3 linked regions of the Homo sapiens genome follow. The protein of the gene in region 2 purifies or fractionates together with the protein of the main gene of each other region. This does not show direct contact. Each region holds a gene or a part of one and is shown on either strand. Other genes may lie near its edges.

Region 1 (7,651 bases), on a different chromosome or scaffold from region 2:
CCCAGGCGACAGTGAGGCCAGGCCATCAAAGGCATTAAATCCCAGCACAGGGTTTTCAGTTTTATCATATGATTATGGAGATCCGTCAAGAATTTGGAGGAAGGAAAATGAAATTTTCTGAATTACAAAACCTACTTTAAAAGCAGAGTAGATAGCGAATTGGAGGAGGCACAAGGGATAGTGGATAGCAGGAAGATGGTAGTGCAGACCGGGTCAAAGATGAATATTTGCATGTAGGGCAGTGATTGAGGGCATGGAGGTGAGTTGTTTTATGTAAAATGCACCGGACTTGGTGACGATTAGAATATAAGGGATGTCTCCTGAGTTTCTGGCTGGGGGAATGTTGTAGGAACTGGTGCCATTCATTTAGATAGCACTTAGGATGATAGCACTTAGAAGATTGCCTTCAGCATGGGGGAATAGGTTTGAGGATAGAAAGTAGTTTTAGATTGTGAATATTTGTATATGAGTTGCCTCTGGGACATTTCAGGTAAAGTTTAGAGAAAACTATATGCTGATGTTGCCCAGGACCACTGTCTAGGCTCAAGATAGACTTGAGTCATCAGCATGCATCAACACATATGTGAAGCCCCCCAGTAGTTAAGGAATCAAAGAATGTTTGTAGAGGGGAAGAAGTCTTAAGTACTGAGCCCAAGGAGAACATTAGTTTTTAAGAGGCAGCAGAATGGTAAGCTGAAAGGCCTGGTTATTATTGTCAAGGGCCACAGAGAGATCAAGTCAGATAGGAATCAGTTGGATTTTATAAGGGGTTATTAGTGACTTTGAGAAGATTAAGACTAGAGAGGCAAATATTTTTGTATTCTATGGCAAAGGAGATGCAGTCAAAGTAGAGACTGGGGAAAAGGCTGAAAAAAGTCTGCAAGAAGAAAAATCAATACTTTTCATTGAGTGATTACTGGATGTCACATACAGATCTAGGCAAGCCCAACACCCTGGAGTCATCTTCAGTTTCTCTTATCCCACATGTTCACCCATTAGCAAGTCTCTCTGCTTCTAATATGTTCCAACTTAATCGTATTTCTTTTCATCACCTCTGTGGCTAACATCCTTTTCTAGCCTAGACTTAATGTAATAGTTTCCTAAGAAGTCTCCGTTTCCAGTCTTGATTTGATAATGTATTTACCATACTGCAGCCAGAATGACATTAAAAAAAAGTAAATTGGACCATGTTCCCCTTACTAACAGTGAACTTTCCATGGCTTTCCATCAAACGTAAGGTCCAAATTCCTTATAACTGCCTGCAAGCTACAAAGTGAGGCCCTTAAAGTAGCATCTTACAGCTTCTTTGCTCTCTTGATTTGAGCCTTACTTTCTGTTGATTGACTGTAACCCCATGTGAGTTGAGGAGCATCTGTATATGTTGCTTTCTGAGAGTCACACTACTAGGTTAAAGCAAAGTCAATGATACATGTGGCTCTTGAAATAATTTTACCATTTAAGAAAACTACCAAATCCCTAGAGTTTGTAGGCAGTTGGCAGAAAATAAAAGTGTTCCTGCACTTGTCTTTGATCTCCCTAATTGTGTAATCTCTTACATCATTATTTTTCCAGCTACCACACCTATATGTTGTGACTGCACAAGTTAAAAAAGTTTCAATCTCTAATGTTAACTCTTGGTAGTTGACATAGCCATCTATTAGATTGTATCTGGGCTTTGAACAGAATATTTAGTTGGGTTTTATTAGAGTTGTGTGCTATTGTTAGAGGCTAGGAGAGGGCCAGGTACACTTGATTGTGTATGTATTGATTGTCTTAACCTCCCTGAGTGCTAGATTTAACTTCTGGTCTTTTTTTATTGCACAGCTTAACATTTTCTAGGAATCTCAAATTCTATATGGTGTTTGAATCTTCTTCAAATTAGTAGGAGGAAATCTGTAATGGTCAATGTGTAACAATTAAACTCTTCAGAATATATGAGCTGATAATAATGATCATTTATTAAGTTCTATAGACCAGGAACTAAAAGCTTTACGGTACAGAGATGCTACATTAGATTGCCTACTTTTGGGAGGAGGGGCAAGAGAAGTGGGGGAGATATTGATCCTTTTATAAGGAAAAACTCCAATATTATATCCGTGTTATCTTTCCTCCAAATAGCTTCTGACAATAAGTTACTTGATTAAAAATTATGTTTTAATTAGAATTTGATGGCTTCTTACAAACTTTTACTGACGCTCCACATGTTTGTTTTTGTAGGAGCTGACTAAGGCTTTGGAACAGAAACCAGATGATGCACAGTATTATTGTCAAAGAGCTTATTGTCACATTCTTCTTGGGAATTACTGTGGTAACGTTTCTTATAAAGTATATTGCCCCCTTTTAATAAGTTACTTATACATTTTACCCATGACAAATTAAAAGTTGTCTTTGAGAATTTTTAAATTGGTCTTTTATACAAGGTAAAGTAGCTCAAATGTGACAGACATGTTGAGCAACACCCATTTAAATTTTATGGATGTCGCTTTTTCCTTCATTGGGTGGAGAATGTATACAGATTTCATTCATAGTTATTGGGTATGCTGATAAAAAATAGCATCACATTTACTATTTGACAGACTATTAAAATGAAATGCTCGTTTAAATTTTTTTTATAAAAAAGAATGTGGCCAGGCATGGTGGCTCACGCCTGTAATCCCAACACTTTGGGAGACCAAAGCAGGAGGATCATTTGAGCCCAGGAGTTCAAGACCAGCCTGGGCAACATAACAAGACCACCTGTATTTAAAAAGTAATGTATTTCTGTATTTTGTACCTTCTGAATAGGGAAAAACTGAATACCTTGAGTAAAATTACATAGAAAATGTTAATGAGACAAGGAGGTGAATTTTGTGACACAGCTGTATTCATTGAAGAGCTTTAAGAAGGAAGCTAAATGTTAAGCCAAAAGGAAGGTACAAGAGTAATATTTATTTGAATTCTATCTTGTATTAGCTTTTCCTAATTTAAAACCATTTGGCATTTCTACCAACTTGAAAACTTAGAAATCTAAAACTGATTCATATGTTGTGTGTATTTGCTAGGATCTATAAATAACTGACTAAAAACCCGTCTTTTTCTACACAGTTGCTGTTGCTGATGCAAAGAAGTCTCTAGAACTCAATCCAAATAATTCCACTGCTATGCTGAGAAAAGGGTATGCAGTAGCTACTCTTCTTGTTGAGCTTGGTATAGATAGTAGGTATTTAATTTGTTGAATGAGTTCATTGCAAGCTTTATATAAGTTGTAAAATTCTGTATTTATACATTATATAGCAGAGATATGATTCAATTTTAAATACAACTTATAGTTCTATTATTTTGTTAACCAAAGTATGTGATAGGAGATCTGTACTTAGTAAATTTTAAAATAGTGATGATTGAAGTATTTGCAAGGTATAGATGAAACTGATAGATTTCACATTGCTTTTTTTTTTTTTTTTTTCAATCTTTTGGAATTTACTATATTTAATTGACTGGACAACATCCTATTCAGCAAAGCTGAATAGGCTACATTTAATGCTATGAAAGCGCTATATCTGTATACTTTATATCCCATCTTGTTTCTGTTGATAAGTATAACTATTCTTTAAGAAACTTCTTTAATTCCTTTGTATAATTATATTTTTGAGTAAGCAAGTCTGTACAATTAAAGTCAGATTCCTTCTGAAGTGAGTTCTAAAATTGAATTTTAGTAGGAATTGTACTAGATCTTAACAGTATATTAGAAAGTCTCTAGGTTTATTAACATACACTTAAAATAAATTTTTTCTTTCAACAGTAGAAAATACTAAGTTTTTTATTTAGAAAGAAGGTATTTTCCAGATTTTTTGTGTGTCTTAATTTGTTTTAAATATATTCATGCAGAATATGTGAATACCATGAAAAAAACTATGCTGCTGCCCTAGAAACTTTTACAGAAGGACAAAAATTAGATAGTAAGTATTAAAAATTATACTTTAATAAACTTATCTATTTCTGTCTTAAATACCAAAGCTGAATTTTGGTAATGTTAATTTCAAGTTAATTGTAGAAACCCAATACCTGTTTTTCTCATCTAAATTATATTTCATATTGATTGCAGATATGAGATCACTTAAAATCGATTAAATTAGCCTTTTGGCATTTAAATCATAGATGAACTTCACCATTAGAAGTAAAAAAAACTATGGAAACACCTAACATGCTCTCTCTGTTTAGTCTGGCTTTGTTTTTTTCTAATGGAGAAGTGAAAGTTTAATTTGCCTTGGTCAGAAGTCTGTTCATTTTAAATTATTCAGATTGCTGAGATGTGAAATCTTAACATTAAAGGTTTTTATGGAGAAGTGAAGTGTACGTTTGGGTAAATTATGAGAGGGTACAGAAGAAACACAGTTTTGAGAGTATTGTGACTTTTAATGTTATATTCTTGAGGGAATATATGAAAAGTATCACAGTGGTGTGGATATCTAGACATATAGAAATTGTGAGAGTCAAGAATATATATATATATATATATATATATTTTTTTTTTTTTTTTTTTTTTTTTTTTTTTTGAGACGGAGTCTCACTCTGTCGCCCAGGCTGGAGTGCAGTGGCGCGATCTCGACTCACTGCAAGCTCTGCCTCCCGGGTTCACGCCATTCTTCTGCCTCAGCCCCCCGAGTAGCTGGGACTACAGGCGACCACCACCACGCCCGGCCAATTTTTTTGTATTTTTAGTAGAGATGGGGTTTCACCATGTTAGCCAGGATGGTCTCAATCTCCTGACCTTGTGATCCACCCTCCTCGGCCTCCCAAAGTGCTGGGATTACAGGCATGAGCCACTGCACCCAGCCGAGAGCCAAGAATTTTTAAATCTGAAAAATACTAAGAGGTTGTGAGTAATTTCAGAAAATTGGAGACTACATAATCCTACTTGTATTATCATTTTATCTTTATGTTATGATAGAGTTTTATCACAGTTCTCTAAAGAAGTGGTTCTTAACTGGAAACGGTTTTGCTTCCCAGGAAACTTTATGCAATGTCTGAAGAGATTTTTGATAATCATGAATGGTGGATGGGGGTTGTGCTACTGACATCTAATGAGTATAAACCAGGGGTGCTACTAAATATTCTATAATGCCCAGGACAGTTCTGCCTAACAAAGAAGTATATGGTCCAAAATGTCAGTAGTGCTGAAATTAAGAAACTTCACTCTTAGTATTTTATGTTACATTCTTACTCTGTACTGTTTTGAATGTTTGCCTTTCTGTTGTGTACCTATTCAGAAAAAAGGATTTTAGCACTGATTATGCAAATGGAAGCTACAAATTAAAAAAGGAGAGGTCTGGGTGATAAGGCTTATTCTCAAACTTGCTTATCCCAGTTTTGGTATGTGAATAGTAGGCCTATTCAGTCAGCAAACAGGACATCTGCACTCTTAGCAAATTCTAGAGTGAAGTTATGTAGTGCCTTGGTACCTAATGTGAAAATCCTGAAGAAACATGAGTCATACCATTCTCTACATTTTCATTTTTCTTTCTTTTTTTAGCGAGAGAAGGTCTCGCTCTGTCGCCCAGGCTGGAGTGCAGTGGTGCGATCTTGGGTCACTGCAGCCTCCACCTCTTGGGCTCAAGTGATCCTCCCACCTCAGCCTCCTGAGTAACTGGGGCTACAGGCACATGCCACCACACCTGACTAATTTTTGCATTTTATTTTTTGCAGAGATGGGGATTTGCCATGTTGCCCAGGCTGGTCTTGAACTCCTGGACTCAAGCGTTCTGCCTGCCTCGGCCTCTGAAAGTGCTGGGGTTACAGGCATGAGCCACTGCGTCTGGCCCCTAGATTATTTTCTTGAGTAATATCTTAATATCATGCCATTGACATTTATTCTTTAGTTATTTCAGAGGTGGCCTTCAGAGGAAGACCTGTTTGGTAAAATTGCTGTTGAGGATATTTTACTTAAAAATAAATTTGTCTTTAAATCCAGGAAACTTTTTTTGTTGTTGTTTTTTGGGGTTTTTTTTTGTTTTTGTTTGTTTGTTTGTTTGTTTCTTTTTTTGAGACTGAGTCTCACTGTGTTGTCCAGGCCATAGTGCAGTTCTCTGTCTCTCAAGTTCAGGTGATTCTCCTGCCTCAACCTCCTGAGCAGCTGGGACTACAGGCATGCACCACCAAGCCTGGCTAATTTTTGTATTTTTAGTAGAGACGGGGTTTCATCGTGTTGGCCAGGCTGGTCTCCAACTCTTGACCTCAAGTGATCCACCTGCCTTGGACTCCCAAAGTGCTGGGATTACAGGTATGAGCCACCATGCCCGGCCAAAATCTGGGAAAAAGTTAAGTTAAACTTTTAGGCTTCTATTTTTATCAGACAGGGTAAAGAATTGTTACCTTTTCCCCTCTTTGTGTGATAAATTGCTTGGTTTTAGTTACTGATTACTTAAAATAATAGGTTACTCAAATCTTTTTGATATAATAGATTTTGATACAATAGTTCTCTAGAATACAGTGTGTGTGAGAGTGTATTTAAATTTTTTATTAATGCTGGTATAGTTGGATTTCTTTTATAAATTAGTAAAGTAGAAATTTTTGTTAAGAAATTTTTAATTTAAGATTTTCAAATTTATCTTGTCTGCAGTTAACTTGAATTAATAAGCTCTTATTTAGAGTACTTTTAATACTTTTAACATATCTTACTATGCACTGTGACTGTTTAAATGTAATCATTGTTCTGTGTCTCCAGAAGTGAATAATTTGTTTATGCATACATTTACACTGTTATCTATAAATATATAATACATCACCTATAGCCTCTCGACTGCCATGTAACTTGGAGATAGGACAAAACTTCACGGAATTTAAAGATGCTTGGTGTTGGTAGGAAAGGCATGGTAACAGATAAAGCCACTGAGAGAATAGTGGACTGAATAGGTATCTGCATTGAAGAGCAAGCTGGGGCTGGGAACGGCTTTTGAACCTCAACTCAGCTCCCAGTTACCAAGCCTCCTCCCCACCCTAACTGATGGCATATTGGGAGTCTGATTTACATCTGATTTTGTTCTGTGTGTGAGGAAGCTTCTCTAAGAGCAGCGGGATTGGGGGAAATGCAGATTATTTGTATCTGTGAAATTAAGGTTGACTGTAGTTAAAATTTTTAAAAAATCAAAATGTTTCATGATTAACAACTAAATGTTAAACTATTGGTATATTTATAACTATAGTAGAGTTGGTGATAAGGTCTGTTAAGACAGGTTTTGTTCGCTGCCGACTCCCCAGTGCCTAGAACACTGCCTGGGATGTAGTAGGTATTCAGTAAGTATTTGTTGATTTATAGGTTGTGCAGATGAGTGATGTTATAGTCAGTTTTTTCTTTCTAGGTGCAGATGCTAATTTCAGTGTCTGGATTAAAAGGTGTCAAGAAGCTCAGAATGGTATGTGGGTCTCCCTTGGTATTTGTTTCAATTTAAAAAGAAGTAAACATCTGAAATTTTTTTGGTTTAAACAAATTTGTTTTTATCTTTATAATTTCTTTTAAATAGTATACGTTTCCTTAGATGTGGACTTCCAAAGATACACTGGTTTTTGCATAGCTTCTTATGTTGAAAGGGGGATTTGGGTGGATTTGCTTGTATGGTATATCAGTAAGAAATTACTAAGGAGTCTAAAATGAATTCAGGATGCAAAATGAAACCAC
Region 2 (8,484 bases):
CACATAGTGAAACTAAAAATACACAGTCTCTACTAAAAATACAAACAATCAGCTGGGTATGGTGGCAGGCGCCTGTAATCCCAGCTACTCAGGAGGCTGAGGCAGGAGAACTGCTTGGACCCGGGAGGTGGAGGTTGCAGCAGTGAGCCAAGATCGCACCACTGCACTCCAGCCTGGGTGACAGAACGAGACTCCATCTCAAAAAAAAAAAAAGTACCTTTTGTTGGTATCCAAAAATCAGAGAATATTAAATAAAAATTCTGTAAAGGCATTAAATATTGTAAAGGCATTAAATATTAATATTAATATTAAATACAAAAAAAGTACCTTTTGTTGGTATCCAAAAATCAGAGAATATTAAATAAAAATTCTGTAAAGGCATTAAATATTGTAAAGGCATTAAATGTTAAATACATAAAAATTCTGTAAAGGCATTAAATAAAAATTATGTAAAGGCATTAAATAAAAAAGATCAGACAGGCTTCAGAGCAATTGTTTTTGGTATCCAAAAATCAGAATATTAAATAAAAATGTAAAGGCACTAAATAAAAAAGATCAGATAGGCTTCAGGGCAACTGTTTAAATAATATTTTACAGATTTTGGTAAGCCAGAAGGTTATATATGCTACTTATGTGTAAGAACGTCTTATGCTTTTTTGCAGAAGAGGTCGGAAAATTCTGACATGTTTGGAAGTGTATGGAAGTTAACCAATGAGAGAATGGAATGGATGTAGGTGTTGAGGGCCCTTCTCATAGGAAAACCCTGACAGATTAAAAAGGAAATTAAGACCACCGAAATACATACTTACAAAAGGTTAAGATGGTAAATTTTATGTTATGTGTATTTTTTCCTTAATTAAAATTTTTTTAAAAAAGAAATTAAAGCTGCTGGCAGCTTTGAGATCAGAGTTGGAAGCTGGCTTAGAACCTTGACCCTAGGTAGTAAAATTCTAACAGAAAACTCAAAGGGCTGTGAGGCAGTATGTCAAAGGTATGTGGGTTAGTTTAGCCTTCCAGGAAATGAAGGAGTGAAGCTATTTGTTTATTTTTAAAAATGAGTGACTAGCATGTGATGAACGCTGTTCTAGAAGCTAAAGAAGCAGCTATGCATCTAACAGCCAAACTCTCTGCCTGCAAAAAGCATACTGTTTCAAAGCAAGGTTTGTGATACAACCTGGGCTCTTCAGAGACAGGGGCTATGTGATGCTGAACAATCTGGGGCCTAGACTGTGTGTTCCTGACCACGTCGCACTTTGTGAACACTCCCATATTTCCAAATCTTTCCAACTCCACTGTGCTTTTACTCTGAGATACCTGCTGCTCCTTCTGAGTTCCTAGAATGCTCACATGCATGCCTTCAAGTCTTAGCCATAAGGGCCAACACATTTTATGACCTGCTTCCTAATAATACCAGGCATAATTAATGGCTGCTTCACTCAGAGGCCATGAGTTAGGCAAACTCTTCAGGTAATCACCCGCACATGCCTTGAAATACCAAGCCTTGCCTTCGAACCATCTCAGCTGATTTAAGTCCTGGTTATCTACCTATTGTTAACTTACATCACCCATGCTTTCTTGTCACAGTCAGTTCAGCATATTACCAAGTCCTTGTTTTACTTAGCAGTATGACACAGAAGGAAAATCCAATTCTACAAGCTGAACTCCAAGGCAAACATAATAAGCGTGTTTGTTTTTAAAAAGATTTCCAACCCTAGTCATGATCTTCTGAGACAACCTTCATGTACTTTCCATGCAATCTTTCTGAATATCCCAATGCAACCAAACACTTTGGTTCTACATCTTAACCCCACTCTGGCCTTAGCAGATTGGATACCAAAGGCTCATTAGTGTGTGTGTCTAAAATAGAGACTGATAATACCCATTTAGTTGTACAAAACAGAAGGAAACCATGAGCCTTCTGATTGTAGAGAATGAACCATTTCTGCCATCAGCATCTTGGGCCTCTGCAGCTTGAGCCTAGGCACCTGTCCTATCTGGGGTCAGAACACATTATTCAGTTAGTTTGACATTCCCTCCCCACCTGTTCAGGGTCCTGCAAGCACACTTAAGCTCTATAGTATCCACTGGGTACAGCGACAGGCTTGGGGAATGCCAGGAGGCAGTACAGTTAGCACCAAATTACAATTCTGCAGGGCACGATACGCCTTCAGGACAGTCCCACCTACACAGGTCTCACACTGAGGGGACAGTGTGTGGCGTCTTCAAACATCTCCCCAGGGGAACCTGCCTTGTCTATGGTGTGATTGGCTGACTCCCATGACAAAACTCACCCTGTCTGCAGCCAAAGGGTGAGAGAGACAGAGGCGCTATCTAGGGGTCTGTAAAAGAGGAAGCAGGGAGAGCAGGCAACATGATCGGTGTTGAGAAACAAAGTTGGATACTGCCTAACCACTGACCGCAGAAACGTAGTCAGATGCAAACATGTCACATTTTATATGGAAGAGATTTTAGGAGAGAGGGCAGTTTTAGGCAGTGCTCGAAACTGAGGACTTCTGCCATTTGAGCTGTTACCAGGAGATGTGAGGAGAGGTGAGGGGGCGAAACTGGCCTATAAATGACAGTCAGCTTTGGGGGATTCCTGGTCCCTCAAGAGAGCTTGTCTAAGCCCTTCGGGTAACTTATCCCTTTGCACGTCCTTCAAATAAGGAGCTGTCACTTTCCTCCCCAGCTCCGGTGTCCCCTCCGTCCATGCCATTTGCCCAACAAGGCCTCAGAGCAAACTCCCTCTTCCACTTACTATCCGGCTCTCAAACCAGGGTTCCTGAGCACCCAAGGTGTCCCTTAAGAAGCAGTAGGAGGGTGGGGGCAAGAGCGTGGGTTCAGTCCATGTGGCGCTGGGCAGATCGCCTGCCAGCTCCCAGGCGGTTTCTCGTCTGCGCAGTGGGGTGGTGAGGGTCTGCACAGCGCTCCGGGGTGGTCCGCCTCTCCCCTCCCCCAGGACAACTCCCGGCCGGGCCGGGAGCGCTCACCGTCGAAACGCTTCCTCCAGCAGGGTGCAGGAGGGGCCCGCCGTGGAATTGGGGCTGTGGCTGATGTAGAAGTTCTCCGGGGCGAGATGCAGCAGGTTCGGGGTCATCTTCACCAAGAGCGGCAGGGGCCACAGCGCCGGCCCCGGCTTGGCCGAGACGCTCGGGGCCCGAGCCGCCTCCGCCACCTGCACCACCAGCGCCACCTGAGTCAGCAGCGCCAACATCGCCGCCAGCAGTGTCGCCAACAGCAGCGCCAGCAGCATGGGCGGCCGGGGCAGCCCCAGCCCGCACAGCTCCATGGCCGCTCGGCTGCTTTCCGCCCGGTCTGCCGAGCCGGAGCCTCGGGACCCGACTTCCCGCCCGGCCCGGATCAGAGGAAGCGCGGCCGCGGGTGAGTCACCGAGTCAGATGACTGCGCGCGCCCGCCCCCGACTCCGCCTCCAGGCCCCGGGAGCGTCCTCGCCCAGCCCGCCCTGTCCAGGTCACCTCGAGAATTTCCTCCAGGGGTGCCCTCGGGTAGGAGCAGAGCCCAGACAGCAACCTCAAACACGGGATGGCTAAAGTAAGAAAAATGCCCGGTGCTGGCCGTACGTGGTGGCTCACGCCTGTAGCCCCAGCACTTTGGGAGGCCGAGGCGGGCGGATCACCTGAGGTCAGGAGTTCAAGACCAGCCTGGCCAAATTGGTGAAACCCCGACTCTACAAAAATACAAAAATTAGCCGAGCATGATGGCGGGTGCCTGTAGTCCCAGCTACTCGGGAGGCTGAGGCAGGAGAATCTCTTGAACCCGGGAGGCGGAGGTTGCAGTGAGCCGAGATCGCACCACTGCACTCCAGCCTGGGTAACAGAGCAAGACTCCGTCTCAAAAAAAAAAAAAAAAAAAAAGAAAAGAAAAAGAAAACGGCCCAGTGCACAGGCTCGGGACGCCAGGCCGACACCGGGTCGCCGCTCACGCTGTCAACACGGGCGCTCTCCTGTGGATCCCTGGCTTCGGTGAAGCTGGAGAAGCCAAGCTTGAGGAGCACCTTTCTCCTCTCAGCCCAACCACCAGATAACCGAGATGAGAGCTGAGTTTATTTGCTCCTAAGTCTAGGCTTTTCTGTAACAGCACTTCAGCTGTGGTCAATAAAGCCTTCCTATCAGAACTCCCTGGGGCAGAGCATGCCCAAGGAATCCTGAGAGAGAACATCTTGGCTCATCTGTGTGGGTCCCGATATAAAGGATCCCAACTGACAAGTTTGATTTCATAACCCATCCCTAAGGAAGAGCCAGTGAAGTCACATGACGAACACGGACTGGAGATGCCAAAGGGAGAAGAGGTGTTCTCTTACCAGAAGGAGAAAACGCTAGGCAGACCAAAACCACAGATCTGCTATATAAGTATTCTGAAAATGAGGGTGGAAGAGCTTTAAGGAAAGACTTCAAAGAAATGTAATGATTAGGCCAGGTGCGGCGGCTCACGCCTGAAATCCCAGCACTTTGGAAGGCGAAGGAGGGCGGATCACAAGTTCAGGAGTTCGAGACCAGCCTGGCCACCAAAGTGAAACCCCGTCTCTATTAAAAATACAAAAATTAGTTGGGCGTGGTGGCGGGCGCCTGTAATCCCAGCTACTCAGGAGCCTGAGGCAGGAGAATCGCTTGAAACCGGAAGGTGGAAGTTTTAGTGAGCTGAGATCACACCTCTGCACTCCAGCCTGGGCAACAAGAACAAGACTCCATCTTAAAAAAAAAAAAAAAAGAAAGAAAAGAAATGTAATGATTATTGGGCCTCAGAAAATGAGACCCCAAAGTGTGGCACTTTGGCATGTTGAATACTTGGAACTGAAGAAAAGAGAGTCAGAAGATCTTTCTGACCTTCTCCTGCCTTTCTTTCTCCTGCTCCCCTTTCTTCCCCAGAGCAAGCCATAGAAACTAGAATTCCTCTTTTTCAAAATGGGTCACAGAAACTAGAGCCACTGTTGGGCATGGTGGCTCACGCCTGTAATCCCAGCACTTTGGGAGGCCAAGGCAGGTGGATCACTTAAGGCCAGGAGTTCGAGACCAGCCTGGCCAACATGGTGAAACCTCATCTCTACTAAAAATACAAAAATTAGCTGGATGTGCTGGCACACGCCCGTAATCCCAGCTACTTGGGTGGCTGAGGCACAAGAATCACTTGAACCTGGGAGGCAGAGGTTGCAGTGAGCCGAGATTGCACCACTGCACTCCAGCCTGTGCCACAGAGTAAGACTCTGTCTCAGAAAGAAAAAAAAAAAAAGAAGAAACTAGAGCCCCTATGCCCCCAAAGCCAGTCATAAAATCTAGAAATATTACTCTAATCTTGCCGTGTCTTTCTGTAGGAGCCAGCCATAAAGAGGTTCTCTGACCTACCTTGTCTGATAGTGGCTCTCAAGACTTTTGTTCCAGAGTGGCCCTGCACCGTATCCTGGAGGAAGGAATACCACACAGAGAGGCCAAGAAGAATTTGAACAGACACATCTTGCCAGGTTTCTCCTCTCTATTACCATTAGGTTGATCATATCCTTTTTGCCCAATCGCATTTCTGCCTGGCTGTCTGCTCTGCATCAAACCTAAACATCAAAATAGGCAGCTTTTCCTGGGTCTTTGAGCCTTCATTCTGAAGGCTCCCATGTCATGTAAAACTGATTAAATAAATCTGTTATGCTTTCCTTGTGTTAATCTGCTCTTTTGTTATAAGAGTGTCAGCCATGACTCATGATGGATGAGGAAAGGTATCACATCTTTCCACCCCTACATGGTGCATGTTTAAAATTCTTCCATAAAAGAAAACTTCAGTGGCACACTATTCTCCCCTATTCTTATAATTAAGACAAATATAATTTGCAATATCCATCTTTACTGCCACTTTTTACTGTCAATGGAAGCACGGCATAATGTTTCCAAGATTCAATCATCAATTTATGTTGTTGCAATTACTATATACTTAATTACAACTTCACATTGCATACTAGCTATCTATTGCTGTGTCACAAATTACTCCAAGATTTAGGAGCTTAAAACAACAACAGATAAATAATAAGATAAATATCTCACAGTTCTTGTGGTTCAGGAATTTAGGAGTCTTAGCTGGGTGATTCTGGATTAGATTATCTCATGAAGTTGCAGTTGTCTGAAGGTTTTTTTCTTTAGGCTTGGCTAGTGCTGGAGGATCTTCTTTTTTTTGTTTTGTTTTGTTTTTTTTGAGACGGAGTCTCGCTCTATCGCCCAGGCTGGGGCGCAGTGGAGCCATCTCGGCTCACTGCAAGCTCCGCCTCCCGGGTTCACGCCATTCTCCTGCCTCAGCCTCCGGCGTAGCTGGGACTACAGGCGCCCGCCACCACGCCCGGCTAATTTTTTGTATTTTTAGTAGAGATGGGGTTTCACCGTGTTAGCCAGGATGGTCTCGATCTCCTGATCTCATGATCTGCCCGTCTCGGCCTCCCAAAGTGCTGGGATTGCAGGCGTGAGCCACCGCACCCAGCCCCGGAGGATCTACTTCTAAGTTAACTTGCATGGCTGTTGGCAACAGATCTCAGTTTCTTGCTGGCAACTGGCTGAAAGCCTGAGTTACTTGCCATACCCACAATATAGCAGCTGGCTTCTCCCAACCAAATGATCTGAGAAAGACAGCAAAGAGGAAGCCACAATGCCTTTATATAGCGTAATCTTGTAAGTGACATGCATCACTGCTACCACATTATATTCCTTAGAAGTAAGTCACCGAAGAGTTTAAGAGTGGATCTCAGATGCAAGGAAATTGAAGGCTAGAAGACTAGGAAGAGATAAATTATCGGTGGGAATGACTGTGGGCATTTAGGAATTAGGGTGATGGAGGGTGGTTTCAGGAAGATTTGGAGTTACATTCACCAAGCCCTGAGATCTTGTGAAACTATCAGATCTCTTTTTTATTGCACCCCGTTATTAACTCTGACTCATTATTTAAAAGGGTGCTATAACACGGGAACAATATTAACATACTCATGGTTGGGTTAGATTTTATTTTTTAGAAATGGGGTCTCACTATGTTACTCAGGGTGGACTTGGGCTTGGGCTCAAGCAATCATGTCTCAGCCTCCTGAATAGTTAGTACTACAGGCCTATACCAATACACCCAGCTTGGGTTATATTTTAAATCAGGGTTTCTCAACCTCAGCACTAGTGACATTTTTGGCTAGATGGTTTTTTGTTCTGGGGAGCTGTCCTGTGCATTACGTGATGTTTAGTAGCAACTGGGCTCTACTCACTGGTCGTCAGTAGCACCACCCCCAACCCCTGAGCCTCAGTGGTAAAAAACATAAATGTCTCCAGATATTGCCAAATATCACCTTGTTGAGCTCCATTAGTCTAAGTAATAATCACTACAACTTATTCACCAACAACAAGGTGCCAGACATATTATTATCATCCTCTTATTTTATCCCCAAACAACTTAAGAGGTAGGTTTTATTGTCCCCATTTTAGAGGACTATGTTGAGGCTCCAGGGCCCCGAAGAACTAAATGGTTTGCTCACGATACCACAGCTAATTAAAGCTAACGCATGGAATTGAAACAACATGGAGCTGAAACAAAGTTTCCCCAGATGACTGAAATATGAAAAAGTGGACCACTATGGATTTACAGCAAATGTGTTTCCACTGAATTCATTTGTATGGTATCTGGTTTCCCTGAGGACCTTTCTAAACATGTAACACCATTGCTTAAAATGCATCACTGGATTTTTACTTTCTATAGGGTAAAATCAGACCTTTAATTAAAGACCATCAACCTACTAGTCTAATCAGAATCTGAATCAAGTTTCTCCACCTGGGTGCACTGTGTGCTAAATATCCCCAAAATGGAATCCTAACATGTGTACCTGCTGTTATTTTTCCCTTGCTTTTATTTTTCCCACATTCAAGGGGAGGGGAATTAGCTTCCACCTTTTGAAGGGAGGAGTATACTTTCTGACCACAAATTATTTCTATTTCTTCCATGCAAAACACATTCCCTTTCTCCCAAGAACCCCAAAAATCTCATCCCTTTAGAAAAGCAGCTTGAAATCCAGAATGTTAGCATATAAATTACATCCAGGTGTGGGTGAGATTCCTAGGATGCAGTTCCTTAAAGTTCTTCAAGTACAGTTCCTCTTAGTGTGAAGACCTGTGAACTAAATGCAAGTTATCTGCCTCCCACTCCTCCCCGACACAAAAATACAGTGGTGGACAGGTGTAAAATAACCACTGTAAACATTCCTGTTCAAAAAGGGAAAAATGAGAGGCAACAACGAGTCTGTAGCAATTCCAAAATCCAGCCAGGCAAATGTTGAAGTTCCTTGATCCGGATTCAAAGACTGAAAATAATTCCCTATGGCTCTTGATGTCACCTTGTGGGCAGTTCTGATTTGCGAGTCATCCTTCCTTTTTCATGAAAGATAGTATCCCTTTCAGTTCATGCTGGCAGTGTTTCTGCTGTTAAAGACTGTGTTGGTTCCTTGTTAATCTTACTGAAGTTCAT
Region 3 (7,651 bases), on a different chromosome or scaffold from region 2:
CCAGGAGGCCCCGCCCCAGGCACACGGGCATCTCCGCACTGGCTCCCTCCAGGAGGCCACGCCCCAGGCACACCGACATCTCCACACTGACTCCCTCCGGGAGGCCACGCCCCAGGCACACCGACATCTCCGCACTGGTTCCCTCCAGGAGGCCACGCCCCAGGCACACGGGCATCTCCACACTGACTCCCTCTAGTAGGCCACGCCCCAGGCACACGGGCATCTCCACACTGACTCCCTCCGGGAGGCCACGCCCCAGGCACACGGGCATCTCCACACTGGTTCCCTCCAGGAGGCCACGCCCCAGGCACACGGGCATCTCCACACTGACTCCCTCTAGGAGGCCACGCCCCAGGCACACGGGCATCTCCACACTGGTTCCCTCCAGGAGGCCACGCCCCAGGCACACGGGCATCTCCACACTGACTCCCTCTAGGAGGCCACGCCCCAGGCACACCGGCATCTCCACGCTGGTTCCCTCCAGGAGGCCATGCCCCAGGCACACGGGCATCTCCACACTGACTCCCTCCAGGAGGCCACGCCCCAGGCACACTGACATCTCCACACTGGTTCCCTCCAGGAGGCCATGCCCCAGGCACACGGGCATCTCCACACTGACTCCCTCCAGGAGGCCACACCCCAGGCACACTGACATCTCCACACTGGTTCCCTCCAGGAGGCCATGCCCCAGGCACACGGGCATCTCCACACTGACTCCCTCCAGGAGGCCACACCCCAGGCACACCGACATCTCCACACTGGTTCCCTCCAGGAGGCCACGCCCCAGGCACACCGGCATCTCCACACTGACTCCCTCTAGGAGGCCACGCCCCAGGCACACTGGCATCTCCACACTGGCTGCCTCCAGGAGGGGCAAGTGGCCAGGGCTGGGCTGTCGGGCCTTTTTCCATTTGGAATCACATGCGTGTTCTCCATTAAAAAAGGAACCAACGTCCAGGATCTGGACACAGAGGAAGGCTGTACATGCGCAGCGGCAGAGAATACACAGAAACCTAAGACTGCTCTAAAAAATAGTCTATCTTAAAAGTAATTATTAACCTGAAGAAACAGGTTTCTCAAAAGAACCTAGCAAGCTTCTCTGGACCTGTGAAGCCTTATTTTTCATCTAGAGAATCCTGCCACCCGTCTCAGGGCACTCAACATCCTTGCTGACCTCCACCTAGCAGCCCTTCACTTCCAGGCAGGAGTGAGTGAGCGGTCATGCCATGCGCACCCCTCGGTCACAGAGCGACATGGGGAGGAGACACGTTCTGCAACCGTGTCCAGGCCTAGCCAGTAGGGAGTCCCCGGACAAGGTCAGCATCCAATTCTCTCTCATTTCCCAAGCTCTGACAGAGAGTGCGTGCCCTTCCTTTTCCTCTTCAAGCCACATTGATGCAGCCCAGAGGTAGCCAGCTAGGTGTGGAGCCCAGATAATTTGGAAATCGATAACCGTGAACACTAGTCACCCCCATGTGTTACGCTAACTCCCACTTGGTAGGGAGCACTGCCCCTAGCTGAAGTTATCTTTAGCTCTGGCTGAGGTGTGTCTGAGAGCATGAACACACCTAGACAGGCTGCCAGGCGTCCGTCCTCAGACACACGCGGCCCATGTGAGAGGACTCTAGCCCGCTCTTCCTGATGAAGCAGACACGACTCCAGGCTCCGTGTGAACAGAGGCTGCACCAGGAAAGCGGCTGTCACCACGGCCCCCGGGGCCCTGTGTTGAGGATTAAAGGCAGCAGCACCTACAGAGGACCCAGCTCCTAAGTGTGTTTCCTTCCAAGCCTCCCCTATGGGAGCCCACGTGGCCCCATCAAGTCCCAGTCACACCCGGGGTTTCCAAGTTGGGCTCCTTTTCACCCACTCACCAGGGAAGGCAAAGTCTGCCGCAAAGCTACAGACAGTAAATATTTCAGACTTTGTGGGCCGTGGCTCTCTGTCAAGACAACACAGCCCTGCCACTGTTAATACAAAAGCAGCCACAGATAATGTGTAAATAAATGAGTGTGGCTGTGTTCCAAGAAAATTTAACTTATGGACACTGAATTTTACATAATCTTTATGTGTCAAGAAATATTCGTTTTCTGATTTTTGGTATGTTACATTTATAAATCGAAAAGCCGTTCTTAGCTCATGGGCTGTATGGAAATTGGAGGTGGGCAAGACCGGCCCAGCACCATGGGGTGCCGACCTGCAAGAGTACCTGCTCCTCGGGGAGGAGTGAGACGGACGATCCTCCTGTGGAGCCCAGCAGTCACTCCTCAGCCTTTAAGCAAGACTGCTGAGGAATGTTGCAAACCAAAGGTCTCCACAGTAGCTCTCAAGATTAGAGAAGGCTGTGATGTCTCCATATATTTCTAGCAGCCAGGAAAGCCCACCCTAAGGGATGTCTCCATACATATTTCTATCAGCCGGGAAAGCTCACCCTAAGGCAAATCACAGGCCCTCACGCTTCAGCAAAATGACAACAACCTATGACCTGGACTGTGAGGCTCGGGAGAGAAGCTCCTCAAAAGTAACAGGATTTACCAGGTGCTTGCTACTTAACTCTGTGCCAGATGCTGAGATACACATTTTGCATACATTTCTCTTTTAATTCCAACAACCTTTGAAGACAGGCTTTTAATCTCATGCCACATGCAAAGAAAATGAGAGGTAAACTACCCTGCTCAAGATCACAGGGCTAGGAGGTGGCCTGGACCCTGCCTGACCCCAGAGCCCGGCGGCTGGGTTAGCAGGTACATCATCGCAGCCCTGACCTCCTCAGAGAGGCAGCGTTGGTCTTTCTGCACCTGTCCCTAAGCTGGCCGGCCAGAGCTGGATGGAGATAAGACTATGTCTCTGTGTGAAGGCAACTGGCTCAAACTGCAAGAGATCTGTGACCCTGGTCCCATCATCTCTGCCCCAGTAGAAGCACAAAGGTTTCAACTGCTTTGCCCTTCTGACATTTTCAAGTAATAATTGTATACGTTTACCATGTGTGTCAGGATGTTTTGAAATACACCTACATGTGTGACAGCTAAAATCAAACACTTACTTTTTTATGGTGAGAAGAGTTAAAATCTACTTAGCAATATTCAAGCCAGAATACATTATTAACTGCAGTCACATGCTGTACTAATTCCTCCTGTCTTCCGGAAACGCTCTATCTTCTGACCAACTTAACCCCAGCCCCTGGTGATCACCTCTCTCTCTACCCGCCCCCCGCCGACTCCCACTGCTTTAGCTCCCACGGGAGACCACACAACATCTGTCTCTGTCCCGGGATATTTCACTTCAATATTCCACCCTTTTTAATCAACATGTGTCTACCCTCATCTACAAGTCACCTGCCCTAGGAAGAAGGATGAGAACGTTCTGCAGAGACGTCGCCGGCTGTGTGCACACGCGTTCCAGGCAGAGCCCAGCACCAGGACACAGAGCAGTGAGGTCACCCGCAGCCACTGCAGCCCAGCTACCCAACCACTAGCACCAGAGGGCCAAGGGTCAGCGTCCTACCTCCCCGGCTGAAGCTGCTGTTGGAAAGGTACGCCTGGATGGTGGCATCATGGAGCGTTACGGTCACGTTGTTCATGTGGACCTGGGTGCCACTAACACATCTGTATTTTTTATCTATATCTGCCCTGATGTCAGTTATAGATTCCACAGTCTTGATTTCTAGATTAAAAAAAAAAAAAATCACAATTGCAAACTACTTGCAGTACTTAGTTTATGTGTTTTTTATTTTAGCCCTGATGTCAGTTATAGATTCCAGTCTTGATTTCTAGATTAAAAAAAAAAAATCACAATTGCAAACTACTTATAGTACTTAGTTTACTTTATGTGTTTTTTATTTTTTTTGAGACAGAGTCTCGCCCTGTCGCCCAAGCTGGAGCACAGTGGCGTGATCTCGGCTCACTGCAACCTCCGCCTTCTGGGTTCAGGCGATTCTCTTGCCTCAACCTCCTGAGTAGCTGGGACTACAGGCGCGCGCCACCACGCCCAGCTAATTTTTGTATTTTTAGTAGAGAGGGGGTTTCACCATGTTGATCAGGCTGGTCTCGAACTCCTGACCTCATGATCTGCCCGCCTCGGCCTCCCAAAGTGCTGGGATTACAGGCGTGAGCCACCGCGCCTGGCTGTGTGTTTTTTATTTTTTAGAGACAGTCTCACTTGGTCGCCTAGGCTGGAGTGCAGTGGCACCATCTCGGCTCACTGCAACCTCTGCCTCCTGGGTTCAAGCGATTCTCCTGCCTCAGCCTCCCGAGTAGCTGGGATTACAGGTGCCCGCCACCACACCTGGCTAATTTTAGTATTTTTAGTAGAGACAGTGTTTCGCAATGTTGGCCAGGCTGGTCTCAAACTCCTGACCTCAAGTGATCTGTCTGCCTTAGCCTCCCAAAGTGCTAGGATTACAGGTGTGAGCCACCACACCCAGCCTGTACTTCTTAGGTAAAAGTAACTTTAGACAATCCTCCAACCCAATTTTCTATCACTTCATAATCGGCCCATTTTGGTTCTTACCTTTGGAGCTCGCATTGGGGAAAAGGTGTGTGTCTGACAAGTTATAAACAAAACTCATGAGCTGGACGCTGTAACGTGTTGCATTTCTCGTGAAATTGAGAGTGAGTGTATGTCCTCTTCCAAAAGCAATCACGAGACTGGGGTCAGAAGTGTTCTCTTTTCCACAGGAGCTGCGGTTGAGCACCACTGTGGCATCTGATGGCAGGTCAAAGGTCATGTTCTAGAATAAACACAATTAAATGTAACCCAATTGGGATGCAGGTTATTAAAAGTTCAAAGAAAGAGATTTTCTGTAAGTCTGATATAAACTTATACTTCATTTCCAACTAAGATATCACTACTGAGGTACTCATTTTTAATATAAACCAAAAAAAGGTTAGTATTACATGTCAGTAAAAGACTGAAAAGTATTTCAGGTGTAAGAGAAAGTTGGCTTAATAATTCATATAATCAAAAATTTGCAGCTGGGCATGGTGGCTCACACCTGTAATGCTAACACTCTGGGAGGCTGAGGTGGGGGGATTGCTTGAGCCCAGGAGTTCAAGACCAGCCTGGGCAACATAGCAAGACCCCATCTCTACAAAAACAAAATAAACTAATCAGACATGGTGGTGTCTGCCTGTCGTCCCAGCTACTCAGGAGGCTGAGGCAGGAGGATTGCTTGAGCCTAGGTTTGAGGCTGCAGTGAACTACGACTGCACCACTGCACTCCAGCCTGGGCAACAGAGCAAGACTCTGTCTCCAAACAAAACAAAACAACCCCATAAATTCATTTTATGTTAATATAATTTATAACAGAATTTAAAGCGTCTTGAAATTGAAACAATTCACACCAGCTTCAGGGTGAGATATATATTTGAGAAAAGCTATCACTACTTTTTTACTATAGAAATGTTCATTTAAATAATGTTTCTTTAAACAAAGAAGGTGTTTATAGCAGAAATGTTTAAATTTACTACTATAAGCAAAACGAGCAACTGGAAAACCACTTAATGTTCATCAAAGTAAACTAGATAGGTCAAATGAACTACAGTGAAGCAGTATACTAACGTGGGCCAAAAAACAACACGAAACTACACAAGGTGATAAAGACATGTTCTGTGAAATAACAAAGTGCATAACAGCATATAGGTGACCTCACTTGTGAAACATAATTTATAATAGAATATTTAAAAAATCCAACCACCAAAACCAAACATTAAAAAAGTGATGTAGAAATTAAATAAAAAGTGCTTGGAGACCAGGTACGCTGGGCCACGCCTGTAATCCCAGCACTTGGGGAGGCCGACGTGGGAAGATCACCTGAGGTCAGGAGTTTGAGACCAGCCTGACCAACATGGAGAATCCCTGTCTCTACTAAAAATACAAAAATTAGCTGGGCGCATGCCTGTAATCCTAGCTACTTGGGAGGCTGAGGCAGAAGAATTGCTTGAACCCAAGAGGCAGAGGTTGCAGTGAGCCAAGAACGCGCCATTGTACTCCAGCCTGGGTGACAAGAGCAAAACTCTGCCTCAAAAAAAAAAAAAAAAAAAAAAAAAGTGCTTGGAGGCCAGGTACGGTAGCTCACACCTGTAATCCCAGCACTTTGGGAGGCCAAGGTGGGCAGATCACTTGAGGCCAGTAGTTTAAGACCAGCCTGGCCAACATAGCAAAACCCCGTCTCTACTAAAAATACAAATAATTAGCTGGCCATGGTGGCATGCACCTGATGTCCCACCTACTGAGGAGGCTGAGGCACGAGACTCACTCAAACCTGGGAGGTGGAAGACACAGTGAGCCGAGATCTTGGCACTGTACTCCAGCCACCTGGGGGACAGAGTGCAACTCTGTCTCAGAAAAAAGAAAAAAGGCTTTGACAAGTATTTATAATTTGAGACTGGATTTTTTTTTTTTTTTTTTTTTTTTGGAGATGGTCTCGCTCTGTCACCCAGGCTGGAGTGCAGTGGCAAGATCATAGCTCACTGCAGCCTCGACCTCACAGGCTCAAGCAATCCTCCCACCTCAGCCTCCCAAGTAGCTGGGACCACAGGCACACTCCACCATGTCTGGCTTTTTTTTTTTTTTTTAAAAAAGAGATAAGATCTTACTATGTCTTGGATTTTTAAAATATTTTGTTATTCCAAAAGGCTTTAGTCATCCCAAAGAAACACAAAGCCATTTCAACAAAACCACTAAGGAACATTTTAATCAAACTAGTACAGTGTTTGCATTGCATGTCAACCAACCATTTATATACATTTCTTGCAGTATAACTCTCTAAATCAAAAAAGCCACATTCACAGAGCATGAAAAAGATTCAAGACAACTTACCAATTACTAATAGGGGAGTGTGTAACAAATTATGGTGAATTAACATAATAAAGTATTACATTATGATTATAAAAGACAATCACGAAGAAAACTAGAGCTGGGAGGGGTGGCTCACCCCTGTAATTCCAACACTTTGGGAGGCCAAGGCAGGCAGATCACTTGAGGTCAGGAGTTTGAGACCACCCTGGCCAACATGGTGAAACCCCGTCTCTACCAAAAATACAAAAATCAGCCAGGCGTGGTGGTGGGCACCTGTAGTCCCAGCTACTCAGGAGGCTAAGGCAGGAGAACTGCTTGAACCCAGGAGACGGAGGTTGTGGCGAGCTCAGATCGTACCACTGCACTCCAGCCTGGGCGACAAACCAAGATTCCATCTCAAAAAAAAAAAAGAAAACTAGAAAAATGTTGATGATAGGCTGGGCGCGGTGGCTCACACCTGTAATCCCAGCACTTTGGGAGGCCAAGGCGGGTGGATCACGAGGTCAGGAGACTGAGACCATCAAGGCTAACACAGTGAAACCCCATCTCTACTAAAAATACAAAATATTAGCTGTGCGTGGTGGCGAGCGCCTGTAGCCCCAGCTACTGGGGAGGCTGAGGCAGGAGAATGGCATGAACCCAGGAGGCGGAGCTTGCAGTGAGCAGAGATCGCGCCACTGCACTCCAGCCTGGGTGACAGAGCGAGACTCCGTCTCAAAAAAAAAAAAAAAAAAAAAAAGGAAAATGTTCATGATGAACAGTGAGGTGCAGCACATATACAGGTTTGTTACTGTGCCTGTGGCTATGGCACATGACAGCGCAGGTTACTGACAACACCAGAAGGAGATATGCAGAT

The links. Proteins that work in one complex are often made in the same cells at the same time.
Region 1: the proteins of HEXB (region 2) and SUGT1 purify together in Homo sapiens (affinity purification with mass spectrometry; 2 studies listed by BioGRID, with this or other methods). This does not show direct contact.
Region 3: the proteins of HEXB (region 2) and LAMP1 purify together in Homo sapiens (affinity purification with mass spectrometry; 2 studies listed by BioGRID and IntAct, with this or other methods). This does not show direct contact.

Annotation. Positions count from the first base shown.
Region 1 is NC_000013.11:52,655,315-52,662,965, forward strand, and holds part of SUGT1 (protein SGT1 homolog), read left to right. Parts: intron 1-2,217; coding exon 2,218-2,308; intron 2,309-2,784; exon of another isoform or gene 2,785-2,893; coding exon of another isoform or gene 2,894-2,912; intron 2,913-3,084; coding exon 3,085-3,154; intron 3,155-3,864; coding exon 3,865-3,935; intron 3,936-6,160; coding exon of another isoform or gene 6,161-6,256; intron 6,257-7,334; coding exon 7,335-7,388; intron 7,389-7,651. UniProt on the Homo sapiens protein: May play a role in ubiquitination and subsequent proteasomal degradation of target proteins.
Region 2 is NC_000005.10:74,680,066-74,688,549, reverse strand, and holds the start of HEXB (beta-hexosaminidase subunit beta isoform 1 preproprotein), read right to left. Parts: upstream 3,318-8,484; 5' UTR 3,290-3,317; coding exon 2,991-3,289; intron 1-2,990. UniProt on the Homo sapiens protein: Hydrolyzes the non-reducing end N-acetyl-D-hexosamine and/or sulfated N-acetyl-D-hexosamine of glycoconjugates, such as the oligosaccharide moieties from proteins and neutral glycolipids, or from certain mucopolysaccharides.
Region 3 is NC_000013.11:113,306,718-113,314,368, reverse strand, and holds part of LAMP1 (lysosome-associated membrane glycoprotein 1 precursor), read right to left. Parts: intron 4,727-7,651; coding exon 4,507-4,726; intron 3,661-4,506; coding exon 3,502-3,660; intron 1-3,501. UniProt on the Homo sapiens protein: Lysosomal membrane glycoprotein which plays an important role in lysosome biogenesis, lysosomal pH regulation, autophagy and cholesterol homeostasis.